Homo sapiens: one gene and its partner. The protein of the gene in region 1 purifies or fractionates together with the protein of each later gene. This does not show direct contact. Each region holds a gene or a part of one and is shown in the gene's direction. Other genes may lie near its edges.

Region 1 (7,028 bases):
TACCCCACCCCTATTCCCATCCCCCACCACGTCCCCTTTCCCATTACCATTTGCACTCCCAAACCATCCACGCCCCATCCCCCACCAGCACTCCTCTCCTCTTCAACCCCCCACCTCTCTCATATCGCCATCTCCCACCCCAACAACCCGGGCCCTTGTACCAACCTCACCCCTCCCACCCCCATCCACACTGAATCACGTTCCGCTTCCGCTTTCAACCCACCCCCAAAAACCCGCCCCCTCCATCGACCTCACCCCTCCCACCCCCATCCACGCTGAATCTGATTTCCGCTTCCTCTTTCAACCCAAGAAAGCCCCAGGGGCCCGGATGTGATGCCACTGACTTGCGCATTGGGGGTTAGAGAGAAGCGAGCTGCTCTGTCTGACCAGCAGCTTGGGATTGGCGGAGGGAAGCGGGCCAGGCCCTGTGAGGAGTCAAGGTGAGACGCTGAGGGAGGACTCAGGAGGCCCCCACCCCAGATAGACGACCCCAAATAATCCCGCACCACTCCTGCTACCAGCCGTGGGCCACCCGTGGGCGGACTTCTGAGTCTGGGGCGCCCTCCACCCCACTGCGTCTGAAGTCGCATGGGACTCTGGAGTCCGAGCTTGGGGTGGTTAGTGTAAGACTAGTGAGGGCAGGCTCTACGAGGCATCAACCTCAGGACCCTAAGAGAGGGCCAAGCGTACCCCACCCCTATTTCTATCCCCCACCGCCTCCCCTTTCCCATTACTATTTGCACTCCCAAACCCATCCGCGCCCCTATCCCCCACCAGCACTCCTATCCTCAACCCCGCACCTCTCTCACACCGCCATCTCCCACCCCAAAAACTGGGGCCCCTCCACCAACCTCACCCCTCCCACCCCCATGGATGCTGAATTGGGTTGCGCTTCCGCTTTCAACCCACCCCCAAAAACCCGCCCCCTCCACCGACCTCACCCCTCCCACCCCCTTCCACGCTGAATCGGGTTTCCGCTTCCGCTTTCAACCCAAGAAAGTCCCAGGTGCCCGGATGTGATGCCACTGACTTGCGCATTGGGGGTTAGAGAGAAGCGAGCTGCTCTGACCAGCCGCTTGGGATTGGCGGAGGGAAGCGGGCCAGGCCCTGTGAGGAGTCAAGGTGAGATGCTGAGGGAGGACTCAGGAGGCCCCCACCCCAGATAGACGACCCCAAATAATCCCGCACCACTCCTGCTACCAGCCGTGGGCCACCTGTGGGCGGACTTCTGAGTCTGGGGCGCCCACCACCCCACTGCCTCTGAAGTCGCAGAGGACTCTGGAGTCAGAGCTTAGGGTGTTTAGTGTAAGACTAGTGAGGCCAGGCTCTGCCAGGCATCAATCTCAGGACCGTAAGAGAGGGCTAAGCGTACCCCACCCCTATTCCCATCCCCCATCACGTCCCCTTTCCCATTACCATTTGCACTCCTAAACCCATCCGCGCCCCCATCCCCCACCAGCACTCCTCCTCGACCCCCCACCTCTGTCATACCGCCATCTGCCACCCCAAAAACCGGGGCCCCTCCACCAACCTCACCCCTCCCACCCCCATCCACGCTGAATCGGGTTCCGCTTCCGCTTTCAACCCACTCCCAAAAACCCGCCCCCTCCACCGACCTCCCCCCCACCCCCATCCACGCTGAATCGTGTTTCCGCTTCCGCTTTCAACCCAAGAAAGCCTCAGGGGCCCGGATGTGATGCCACTGACTTGCGCATTGGGGGTTAGAGAGAAGCGAGCTGCTGTCTGACCAGCAGCTTGGGATTGGTGGAAGGAAGCAGGCCAGGCCCTGTGAGGAGTCAAGGTGAGACGCTGAGGAGGACTCAGGAGGCCACCACCCCAGATAGAAGACCCCAAATAATCCCGCACCACTCCTACCAGCCGTGGGCCACCTGTGGGCGGACTTCTGAGCTTGGGGCGCCCACCACCCCACTGCCTCTGAAGTCGCAGGGGACTCTGGAGTCAGAGCTTGGGGTGTTTAGTGTAAGACTAGTGAGGCCAGGCTCTGCCGGGCATCAATCTCAGGACCCTAAGAGAGGGCTAAGCGTACCCCACCCCTATTCCCATCCCCCACCACGTCCCCTTTCCCATTACCATTTGCACTCCTAAACCCATCCCCGCCCCCATCCCCCACCAGCACTCCTCCTCGACCCCCCACCTCTGTCATACCGCCATCTGCCACCCCAAAAACCGGGGCCCCTCCACCAACCTCACCCCTCCCACCCCCATCCACGCTGAATCGGGTTCCGCTTCCGCTTTCAACCCACTCCCAAAAACCCGCCCCCTCCACCGACCTCCCCCCCACCCCCATCCACGCTGAATCGTGTTTCCGCTTCCGCTTTCAACCCAAGAAAGCCTCAGGGGCCCGGATGTGATGCCACTGACTTGCGCATTGGGGGTTAGAGAGAAGCGAGCTGCTGTCTGACCAGCAGCTTGGGATTGGTGGAAGGAAGCAGGCCAGGCCCTGTGAGGAGTCAAGGTGAGACGCTGAGGAGGACTCAGGAGGCCACCACCCCAGATAGACGACCCCAAATAATCCCGCACCACTCCTACCTGCCGTGGGCCACCTGTGGGCGGACTTCTGAGCTTGGGGCGCCCACCACCCCACTGCCTCTGAAGTCGCATGGGACTCTGGAGTCAGAGCTTGGGGTGTTTAGTGTAAGACTAGTGAGGCCAGGCTCTGCCGGGCATCAATCTCAGGACCCTAAGAGAGGGCTAAGCGTACCCCACCCCTATTCCCATCCCCCACCACGTCCCCTTTCCCATTACCATTTGCACTCCCAAACCATCCACGCCCCATCCCCCACCAGCACTCCTCTCCTCTTCAACCCCCCACCTCTCTCATACCGCCATCTCCCACCCCAACAACCCGGGCCCTTGTACCAACCTCACCCCTCCCACCCCCATCCACACTGAATCACGTTCCGCTTCCGCTTTCAACCCACCCCCAAAAACCCGCCCCCTCCACCGACCTCACCCTTCCCACCCCCATCCACGCTGAATCTGATTTCTGGTTTCTCTTTCAACCCAAGAAAGCCCCAGGGGCCCGGATGTGATGCCACTGACTTGCGCATTCGGGGTTAGAGAGAAGCGAGCTGCTCTGTGACCAGCCGCTTGGGATTGGTGGAGGGAAGCGGGCCAGGCCCTGTGAGGAGTCAAGGTGAGACGCTGAGGGAGGACTCAGGAGGCCCCCACCCCAGATAGACGACCCCAAATAATCCCGCACCACTCCTGCTACCAGCCGTGGGCCACCCGTGGGCTGACTTCTGAGTCTGGGGCGCCCTCCACCCCACTGCGTCTGAAGTCACATGGGACTCTGGAGTCCGAGCTTGGGGTGGTTAGTGTAAGACTAGTGAGGGCAGGCTCTACGAGGCATCAACCTCAGGACCCTAAGAGAGGGCTAAGCGTACCCCACCCCCATTCCCATCCCCCACCCCCTCCCCTTTCCCATTACTATTTGCACTCCCAAACCCATCCGCGCCCCCATCCCCCACCAGGCTCCTATCCTCCTCAACCCCGCACCTCTCTCACACCACCATCTCCCACCCCAAAACCCGGGCCCCTCCACCAACCTCACCTCTCCCACCCCCATCCACACTGAATCAGGTTCTGCTTCCGCTTTCAACCCACCCCCAAAACGCGCCCCCTCCACCGACCTCACTCCTCCCACCCCCATCCACGCTGAATCGGGTTCTGCTTCCGCTTTCAACCCAAGAAAGCCGCAGGTGCCGGAATGTGATGCCACTGACTTGCGCATTGGGGGTTAGAGAAAAGCGAGCTGCTCTGTCTGACCAGCAGCTTGGGACTGGTGGAGGGAAGCGGGCCAGGCCCTGTGAGGAGTCAAGGTGAGACGCTGAGGGAGGACTCAGGAGGCCCCCACCGCAGATAGACAATCCCAAATAATCCCGAACCACTCATGCTCCCAGCCCTGGGCCACTCGTGGGGGGACTTCTGAGTCTGGGGCGCCCACCACCCCACTGCCTCTGAAGTCGCACGGGACTCTGCAGTCAGAGCTTGGGGTGATCAGTGCAAGACTGGTGAGGGCAGGCTCTGCCAGGCATCAACCTCAGGACTGTAAGAGAGGGCCGAGGGTCCCCCACCCCCATTCCCATCCCCCTTCCCATTCCCATCCACACTCCCAACCCCATCTACACCCTATCCCCCACCAGCACCCCTATCCTCCCCAAACCCCCACTACCCTTATGTCCTCATCCCCCACCCCAACACCACTATCCCCATCCAGGTTGAATCGCATTCCGTTTCTGCTTTCAACCCAGGGAAGCTCCAGGTTCCTGGATGTGATGCCAGTGACTTGTGCATTGGGGGTTAGAGAGACGCTAGCTTCTCAGTCTGACAGGCAGCTTGGGATTGGCAGAGGGAAGCCGGTCCAGGCTCTGTGAGGTGGCATAGTGAGAAGCTGAGGGAGAAGTCGGGAGGCCCTCTCCACCCCAGATAGACGACCCCAAATAATCCGGCACCCCTCCTGCTTCCAGTCCTGGGCCACCCGTGGGCGGACTTCTGAGTCTGGGACGCCCACCACCCCACTGCCGCTGAAGCCGCAGGGGACTATGGAGTCAGAGCTTGGTGTGATCAGTGCAGGACTGGTGGGGGTAGGCTCTGCCAGGCATCAACGTCAGGACCCTAGGAGAGGGCTGAGTGTCCCCCACCCCCATTCCTATCCCCTACCCCTTTCCCATCTGCACTCCCTACCCCATCTGTACCCCCATTCCCCACCTGTGCCCCTATCCTCCCCAACCCCCCAACCAGCCTCATACCCCCCTCCCCCACCCCTACCTTCATCCCCATCAGCGCAGCATCCGGTTCCACCCCTGCTTTCAATCCAGGCAAGCCCTGGGTGGCCGGATGTGATGCCACTGACTTGTGAATTGAGGGTTAGAGAGAAGTGAGTTTCTGGGTCTGAAGGGTGGCTTGAGATCGGCAGAGGGAAGGTGGCCCAGGCTTTGTGAAGAGGCAAAGTGAGACTCTGAGGGAGGATTCAGGAAACCCCTATCCCTGATAGAGGGTCCCAGCCCTGGACTACCCCGCGGAGGCTGACTTCTCAGACTGGGCTGCTCCCCACCTCCGCCCCCTTCGCAACGCGTTTGTTTAAGCCACAGGGGACTCTGGAGTCAGAGGTTGGTGTGATCAGGGAAGGGCTGGTTAGGAGAGGGCATGGCCCAGGCCCTGCCAGGAATCAAAGTCAGAAACCTGAGAGGGAACTGAGGTCCCCCAAGATCCTAGTCTAACCCCCACTCCCACAAATCCGCTGCCATTTCGCTGCTCCATTTCCCATTCCTTGCCCTCCACCCTCACCAGGCAGAATCCAGTTCCCCTTCTGCTATCAATCCAGGGAAACCCCAGGCTTGGTGCTGGGATGTTTTTTGGGGGTCAGAGAATCAAGGGCATAGTCCTGAGGGGCCAGTTGAGATCGGCTGAGGGGAGCGGGCCCAAGCTCTGTGGCGAGGCAAGGTGAGACTCTGAGGAAGGACTGAGGAGGCCCCCACCCAAGATAGAGGAACCCAAATAATCCAGCGCAGCTCCTGCTGCCAGTCCTGGACCACCCGGGGGAAGACTTCTCAGGCTAGGCCATCCCAGCTCCCACTGCCACTAAAGCTACAGGGGACTCTAGAGTCAAGAGCTTGGTGTGCCCAAGGCAGGGCCCAGGCTCTGCCTGGCATCGGGGTCAGGACCTTGAGAGGGAACTGAGGGCGCTACACCCCCACCCCATCCGCATTCCAACATGCCCAGCCCCATCCCCAACTCCGTTTTGCAGAATCCATTTTTTCCCCTGCAGTCAACCCCGGGAAGACCTGGGAATGGTCAGGCACTCGGATCTTGACATCCACATCGAGGGCTGAAGGAGGGAGAGGGTTTGGTATCATGAGCAGAGCCTCAGGGTAGCAGAGGGAGGACCCTGGCCCTCCTGGGAGATGAGGAAGGCCTCAGGAGACCCAGCACCCCAAGGCAGGGAGCCCACCCCACCCCGTCTGAGAATGAGGTGCCTCCTCTTTTAGCCTCAGGAATCCAAGGGATGGCAACTCAGGTCAGCAGAGGGGTGGGTTCCAAGCCCTTCCAGGATCAAGGAAAGGAAGACGAGGGAGGATTCAGGGGGCCTTGCATTCCAGATCAGTGGAGACCTGGGCCCTGGGAGGTCCTGGGCAAGGTAGCCACCTGTAGCTCATACTTCCTGCATCTTCGAGGTCACAGAGAGGAGAGGGCTATGGTCTGAGGGGTGGTACTTCAGGTCCGCAGAGGGAGGAGTCCCAGGATCTACAGGACCCAAGGTGTGCCACACTTCACGAGGAATGGGGATACCTGTGGCTCAGAAAGACGGGACCCCACAGAGTCTGGCTGTCCCCTGTTCTTAGCTCAGGGGGGACCAGAGGAGGGATGGCCCTATGTGCCAATTTCACTTGTTCCACAGGCAGGAAGTTGGGGAACCTTCAGGGAGATGAGGTTTTGGAGTAAAGGGGCAATGTTTGCTCATCTCAGGGGGTTGGGGGTTGAGGAAGGGCAGGCCCTGTCAGGAGCAAACATGAGTACCCCACAGGAGGCCATCAGAACCCTCACCCCAGAACCAAAGGGGTCAGCCCTGGGCACCCCACACAGGGGTGACAGGATGTGGCTCCTTCTCATTTCTGATTCCAGATCTCAGTGAGGTGAGGACCTTGTTCTCAGAGGGTGACTCAGGTCACCACAGGGACCCCCATCTGGTCTACAGACACAGTGGTCCCAGGATCTGCCAAGAGTCCTGGTGAGGAATGTGAGGGAGGATTGAGGGTACCACAGGGCCAGAACGCAGATGATGACCCCACAGAAATCAGCCCTGCTCCTGTTGTCACCCCAGAGAGCATGGGCTTGGCTTTCTGCTGAGGTCCCTCTCTTATCCTGGGATCACTGGTGTCACGGAGTGGGAGGCCTTGGTCTGAGGGGGCTGCACCCAGGTCAGTAGAGGGAGGGTCCCAGGCTCTGCCAGGAGTTGAGGTGAGGACCAAGCAGGCTCCGCATCCAGGACACATGGGTTCCAATGA
Region 2 (7,028 bases), on another chromosome or scaffold:
GCCGAGCTCTTCTGGCCCAGCATGGCCTCCCTTCCCAGCCGCGGCCGGCTGAGCACGACCCCTGCTCACAGCCCCGTCCTGAAACACCCAGCGGCCAAAGGGACCGCAGAGAAACTGGGTATGTGGGCTACCCCACCTTGATGCCCCTGAAAACTGTGGAACTGTCTGGCCTAAGAGAATCTTTTGTTGAGCTAGAGAGGAAGCAGGGGCACCCATCAGCTCTTACTCTATGGGGATGCTATTCTAATGCACTTAGGATATGTGTGCCCTTTCTTATTACGGGAATAAATATGCATATAGACACATCTAGTTTATTACTATTTGAAATGAGTGCACGGCTTGAGACTACCCTGGCAATGCATACTTTTTAACTAACCTTTCCCCGGATGGAGTGACAACAGACCCTCTAAGGGGCTGAATGCCCTCTGGTATGTTTGGGAGCCAGAATTAGGCACCAGGTACATCAAAGGCACAAGTTCACTGTTGCCTTCAGGGCTCTAACTTACCAGGGATTCTGGCCTCAGTGGAGGACATTGTGATGGAAGGAGAAGGTAGATTGACCTGCAGAGTCGGTTAACGTGTGGCACAGCACTTGGGCCAGGACTAACGAGCTGTTTAAAATATTTACGGGAAGACAACTTGGGAGAGGTGATCTTTGCAGTGAGTCCCTAAGTGTCCTGGGTAAGAATAGACCTGGCCTCTTAAGGCACTCCTCTTAAGCAAAGGAGTACCATGGCCATGGTCAGTGGGATCCCACAAATGTTCTTAAATGGGTAAGGCTTTAAGTAGCCAGAGAGTACCCAGCCTACCATTGGCTTCTCCACATCCTAAAACCTGAGACTAATCATGGTCATGGGGACCTCCCTTTTCAGGAATTCTTTTGAGGAGGTGCAGGCTCTGTGGGCCCTAAGTTAACTGTTTCCTCCAAGGGGGTTGTTTATTTCATTTTTCAAAGTAGACAAGTAAATACAATGTTGTCACTTTTTAAAGATGTGATTCTTTTCCAAGTAAGCCAGAGAACCTGTCAAAAGTGCCTAGCTCAGAATATGCACCTGATAGTTTTGAGTAGAGGGTGTGAGGGGCTCCTGTACAGAGTCCCACTGTCATCCTCACCTTCTGAATCCTCTCCCTTCACCATCCTGGTTTGTATTTGTGTCTGAATCCTGGCCCAGTCATTCTGCATGTTCCCACTGTGGGCTGGATCATCTCACATGCCCTGTGGTGAGAATCCTGGGTGTGCAGTGGTATCGGACGTGGGTCCATTTTAGAGAACCTGGAAAGCCTATGCCCCTCCTGAGGAATGGGCAGCTGATGTTTCCCCTCTATTTGGCAGAGAACTCTCCTGGCCATGGGAAGTCGCCTGACCACAGAGGCCGGGTCAGCAGCTTGCTGCACAAGCCCGAGTTCCCTGATGGAGAGATGATGGAAGTCCTCATCTAACTGCCATCCCTGTGGAATTTCAGTACAGAACACTGACAAACAAGGAAAGCGGCAGAGAAAGAAGAAAGACCTAGAAGGTTGTAGATGGGAAATCAGGAATGATTTGAACTGATAAAGATTTCAGACTCATAAGAACACATTTTATAAATGTTAAACACAAAAACTACATGACTGAAGATAGAAGAGAATGCGATGGATTTTATTACACATGGTGGAAGAGAGAAGAGGCGTGTAGGTTTGCAAACAAAGTTAAGAAATAGGAAACTGAATTTTTCATTGTACAGAAAATGTATCTCTTGGGGAGGGCCTGTGTACCCCCATTCTCTGATTATAAACAGATAAACCCAAATGTGGATCATCCTTGGAATACCCCCATTCTCCTTGCCTCTTAGCATGTTTGATTTAAGAAAAGCCTCCAGGAAATCTTGAGAGCCTGTCTTGGCATAATGCAGTGTCACCTGTGCCAACCATGGGGTGTCCCGTGAGTGTGAGTGTGGCAGTGAGAAGAAGCATCGAGGGCGAGGGGAATATGAAAGTTGGTCTTCACCTAATTACCTGTTTGGTTTGGATTTTCAAGAGATGATTGGGCTTCTTAGCTTTTCTGAATTCTGCAGTATTTTCTAAACAGGATAGATTATGATCTCGGTCCCCATCCATCCTAACTTCTGAGTTCATCTCTGTCTCTGCTTTACAGTCTTTAATTTTTTGTTGTTCCTTCATTTTTTTCTTTTTAATAAGACATAGCAGAATTCCTTAGGTATGGGATTTATGAGACCAGTACCTGAACTGTCATCATTCCTACTGTGTTTGATAGTGACCAGTAGGACAAAGCCACGTGCCGACTTCCTGGCTGCTTCACCTTTGCATAGCTGGGTTGCAGCTGCGAACCTCATTCTGACTGTGAACTAAGCAAGCTTTGAGGAGGCAGGAGATTCCGTGGGTCCCTGTGACATATTGCATTAAGATCGTGGCACTTGCTTTTTTGTCTTTCACATCGGCTGTCTTGCAAGGAGCTTGACATTTCCAAATTCCATTGCTCTGTTTGGGGAAGACTTAGGACAGCACTCCAGGAAACAGATGACAATTTACAGACAGTTGTCTCAGTGGTTTCCAGAATCTCACCAGCCTCCCGTATAGCTTCTTGTATTGAGGCTCATGAGCGTATTCACACTCTTTCCTCCCCCGCGCACGCCTCTGCTTGCTCTCGATCAGCATCCAGACCTCCGTGGCACCAGGTTGCCTCTGTTGTGAACTTCTTTTGTAACCTACCAGGCCAGTTGTATATACAGTGTTGTCAGGTTTTTCCGGGTTTCAGTTTTGAGGCAGTTTATTCAAAGTGAGACAGAAGTGCCACGGAAAAGAGGCAGGAGTGTGTTAGGTGGTGGGTCCATTAGACCTCTGCTGTGACATTGCATATTCAGCTCTGCAGACACTGGCTTCCTTTACAAATCTAAGAGATGCTGGATTAGAAAAGAGGAGAAGCTCATCGGGCCATCAGAGAGATGCTCCTACAGGGTCCTGATGTTTTTGTACCTCCAGGTCAGCTGGATCGCTGTTTTCCCAGTTCCCTTTGCTCATGCTTACTTAGAGGAAGAAAGAAAGGGGGGTACCTCTTCCAAGTACCTTCTAAATGAAACACTCAAGAGAGTGCTACTCAGGAAACTTTGCTTGGATCCTAAAATGGACTGGTCTTGGGTGTGTAACCCCGGTGAAGTTATAGCCTCCCCAAATTGAGGTGACAGAAGGAAGACAAGAGGTGTAAGCTGGAGAGGGAAGGGAAGAAATCAGTGGCTTTGGCCAGCCTCTGTGCCACCCAGTACGACAGAGGAGTGGGAACTGGCCCTCTGGGGCTCTGCTTGGCCATAGGCACTGCACATTGTGCCACCTGCTCATCACCTCCTCTAGTCTCACACTGAGCATCGGAGTACCTGTTGTGCAGACAGGAAAACTGAGGAGCTCTGAGAGGCTGAGCATGGAGCTCACCCCATGCCATAGGGTGTGGGAAGAGGGCACAGGAGGCCTCATCCATGGGGGAAAGGGTTGAGGATGGACATGGGTGGGGAGAGGGCATAGACATCCCTTCCTAATCTCTGTTCCCACCACATTTCATAGGAGATGAGTTAGGAGATGACAGCTAACTCTCTTAAGGACATTTTGACCCCAGTTTATGTTGGGGATGGACCAGAAAGGAAAATGTCTAGAGATAGGAAGGTAAATCAACTCTGCCAGCCCCTACCATCAGGTCTGGGCCACCCCAAACTTGGGCTGCCTCCCTTAGACATAGGTTAGAGTGAGAGACCCAGCTGTTTCTCCCGAAGCCTCGTCTTCATGCCCCAGACACCTGATTGCCCCAATCAGGTGTCAGACTTGCTTGCTCTTCGAGGTCCCCCTGAGCTGCCAAGTGTTTTCATTGTAAACAGACACATCGCCATGTTTCAGGGCTTCAACGGCATTGTATTTTGGACTTTGACCGTATTTTTTTTCTCTTAACCTACTGAGACTCTTCCTTAAGAACAGGATCTATAGCTTTAAAATGTCTTCTTCTATGGGAAATTTCCTGCCAAGCCAGGGCACTAAATTCTTTCATCATTAGAGCTTTCCTGAAGTCCGGCCATATACTGAGTACCTGCTCTGAGTTCTGGGCAGCTTACAATATCTTAAACAGATTTTCAGAAAAATAATGCAACTATATTTTCTAGTGTCAACTGTATGCAAACAGTGTGGTAAATACCTTTTAATTAGTCCTCCACCCACCTGGAGTACAGGGGGTGCGTTTATTATTCTGATTTCACTGATGAGGAAATGGGCTCAGAAAGGTTAAGTCCCTTCCTGAAATCTCACAGCCAGGAGAAGCTAGGATGATTTAAAACAAAGTTTGGAGAGGCACTGGGCATAGACCCTGGCTGTACAGCCTCTAACATGCGGCACTGCATCTTGGCAGTCTCTATGCCTGTCTGTGATGTGTGTGTGCACGTGTAACTACACACACACACACACACACACACACACACACACACAGCTATCACACATCTCAGAGCCTAAGAAATAGGACTAAGCCCAGAACTCCTAGAATCACCTATAAATGCTAGGCATAGATGGAAATTATTGTGTTCCACCAGAAGCACAGCTCCAAACTATACCTAAAAAATATTTCTGCACTTCCCAGAGACCTGGACTTCAAACTTTCCCAGTGGAGCCTGATTATAGAACTTGAGGGTCCTATCTCAGGATGAAGGGGAGAGGCCCTGGCTTCACGGGAAGGTATTCCAGCATTGTTCTGCTTCACCCTTGACTGCGTTGTCTGGCAGTTTCTGTGTGCTGCCAGGATATTATATGGAACTGGAGAAGTTGGAGTCAGGTCTCTGAAGCTAGAGTTTCACTAATTAGATGCCTCTGTACATGAGAACTATTACTGTCTGCAGGTCCATATAGCTAAGCTGCCAGGAAAAACACATTATCTTCCAAAACTTTCAGAGCATGTGCAGAACCCTTTCTTAGCGTTTTCTTCTCAGCATTTTCTCTGCCTCCCAGAGGCTGGCAGCCAGTGACACTGCAGAGTTCAGCATGTTCTAACCATGCACGCAGGGCAGGGGCTGCCTTGGCCCTCCTCAGGCTTTCGTTGGGAGAGCAGGCAGTGGTGGAGCCCTTCTGGGTGCAGTCCTCTGGGGTTGCTCTTTGGAACTCATGTATGAGTTTGACTCCACAAGGCTTGGCATGGATACCAAAACAGTTGCAACAAATTAGTTCTGAACCTGGAACAGAGAATTCAGTGCTTCTGTTACTCAGGAAGGAGGTGTTCAGAATGCCCCGTGCAGAGCAGCCAGTCATTACTCTTGTTTGTTCTCACCTGGGTGCGCACCCTCATGATGCAGTGGCTGTAGCACCTTCATGCCAGGTGCTGAGAGAATGGGAAATTCTTCCTCCCCATTGACCTGAGTCCCAGAGACTTAGGGACACAGACTTCAGGTGAGGCTGCGGACCTCAGAAGCAGTGGATAATAGATTGGGGCATTAAAAGCTTTTGAGGCAGGGGGCTCATGTTTTGACTGCAGGGAGTTATGCTGAGCAAAGAGATGTGTTTTTCAAAACCAGGGTTCAAAACCAGTGTCCACGCTGGAGTAAGTGGAGCATGCTTCTCTGTGTTCTCTGAATGATCTTGCACTCCTCTTAAGCAAAGGAGTACCATGACCATAGTCAGTGGGATCCCACAAATGTTCTTAAATGGGTAAGGCTTTAAGTAGCCAGAGAGTATCCAGCCTACCATTGGCTTCTCCACATCCTAAAACCTGAGACAGCCTTGGTATATGCTTTATAAATGTTTCTTTTCTTGTTGTTTAAGTAATTAAAGTGTTTAAAATGTCTTCATTAGATGTGACGATTGTTTAATGAGTTTGCCTCTGACGTGTGGCTCCATGGGAGATAGGCAAAGTAATTAAGAAGTTACCAGAAATTGGTCGGCTGGGGAAATGCAAAAGTTAGCATTTCAGTAGTGAATTTCTCCTGGAACAAATGAGCAATTTTTCCTCTTTCTCTTAAGTAGTATACCCTTTTCTCACTTAGTAATTTAATGGTATATAAAGACATGTGTATAAGTGAGTGCATACATATGAGGTATGACTATAGGGTTGTTTGTGGGAATTTCTTTTCCTAACATACAGAAGATCAAAGTGTTCATCTCACCCCGCCCTCCTTAAAAGGTGTCTTTTGGGAGACTATGTGCTCATTGACTATAGTGCTGCCAAGTAAAAATATCTTGGGAACTCTTCTACTAGAATGGCCTTCAGGGCTTGGCATGTTCCTTTGGTTTACCCTTAGAGATGAGAAATCCTCCTCCTTTGAGGATGGATTTAAGTTCTGGAAATAATCTCAAGTGCTTGATAGCACAGTTGGATGAAAAAAGATGGCAATTAAGGTAAGTTACACCATTTTTGTTTCTAAAAAAATCCCTAAGAAATTTCTTGGAATGAGTCTTTGGCCTCAGAGCCTCTCAAAGTGTCCACTTCAAGGGGGGATCATCCTCATTAGCACACAGATTTTTAAAAATCAATTCTCTTGCCATGCCTCCTATGTGTTCACATCTCTGCATACACTACAGATATAAGTGCATAATCATTCATATAAACATCTGGTAGGTATTCTGTAAAACTGTGTTTACTTTAGTGCATGTTATTGTCATGTTATGATGTGACTGGGGTGTTTCTTTGTCATGAAACTTTGCTTCTTCACAGAATTAGAATACTGCTCTCTCTATATTGAACTACATATACAGCGTTTTCTTGTATCAGCCCCCAAAGTCTGGATGCCCGGTGTTGTGTTTACATGTGATTGTGCCTAGGAGTCTGTTCACATAGAGACACCTGTAAGTATTTATTACAAAACGGAATGTAAGCAAATATATCCACATTGGTTTTATTTGAATCAAGGTGTTTTTTTGTTTTTTGTTTTTTTTCCTTTTGAGGAGGAACAGGGAGCCTCCTCCTCCATGAGCACTTACAGAATTGTGTAAAATTCTGTGAAACAGTGGTAAGCATGGGCACCCGATTTCAGCTGTCCTGCTGCCGCTGCCCTCCAACCTGCTCTGTGTGTGTG

What was found. Proteins that work in one complex are often made in the same cells at the same time.
Region 2: the proteins of MAGEA4 (region 1) and AMOTL1 purify together in Homo sapiens (affinity purification with mass spectrometry; 4 studies listed by BioGRID and IntAct, with this or other methods). This does not show direct contact.

Annotation. Positions count from the first base shown.
Region 1 is NC_000023.11:151,915,881-151,922,908, forward strand, and holds part of MAGEA4 (melanoma-associated antigen 4), read left to right. Parts: intron 1-356; exon of another isoform or gene 357-440; intron 441-1,044; exon of another isoform or gene 1,045-1,122; intron 1,123-2,407; exon of another isoform or gene 2,408-2,476; intron 2,477-3,029; exon of another isoform or gene 3,030-3,157; intron 3,158-3,712; exon of another isoform or gene 3,713-3,842; intron 3,843-6,645; exon of another isoform or gene 6,646-6,751; intron 6,752-7,028. UniProt on the Homo sapiens protein: Regulates cell proliferation through the inhibition of cell cycle arrest at the G1 phase. Also negatively regulates p53-mediated apoptosis.
Region 2 is NC_000011.10:94,869,356-94,876,383, forward strand, and holds part of AMOTL1 (angiomotin-like protein 1), read left to right. Parts: coding exon 1-118; intron 119-1,333; coding exon 1,334-1,440; 3' UTR 1,441-7,028. UniProt on the Homo sapiens protein: Inhibits the Wnt/beta-catenin signaling pathway, probably by recruiting CTNNB1 to recycling endosomes and hence preventing its translocation to the nucleus.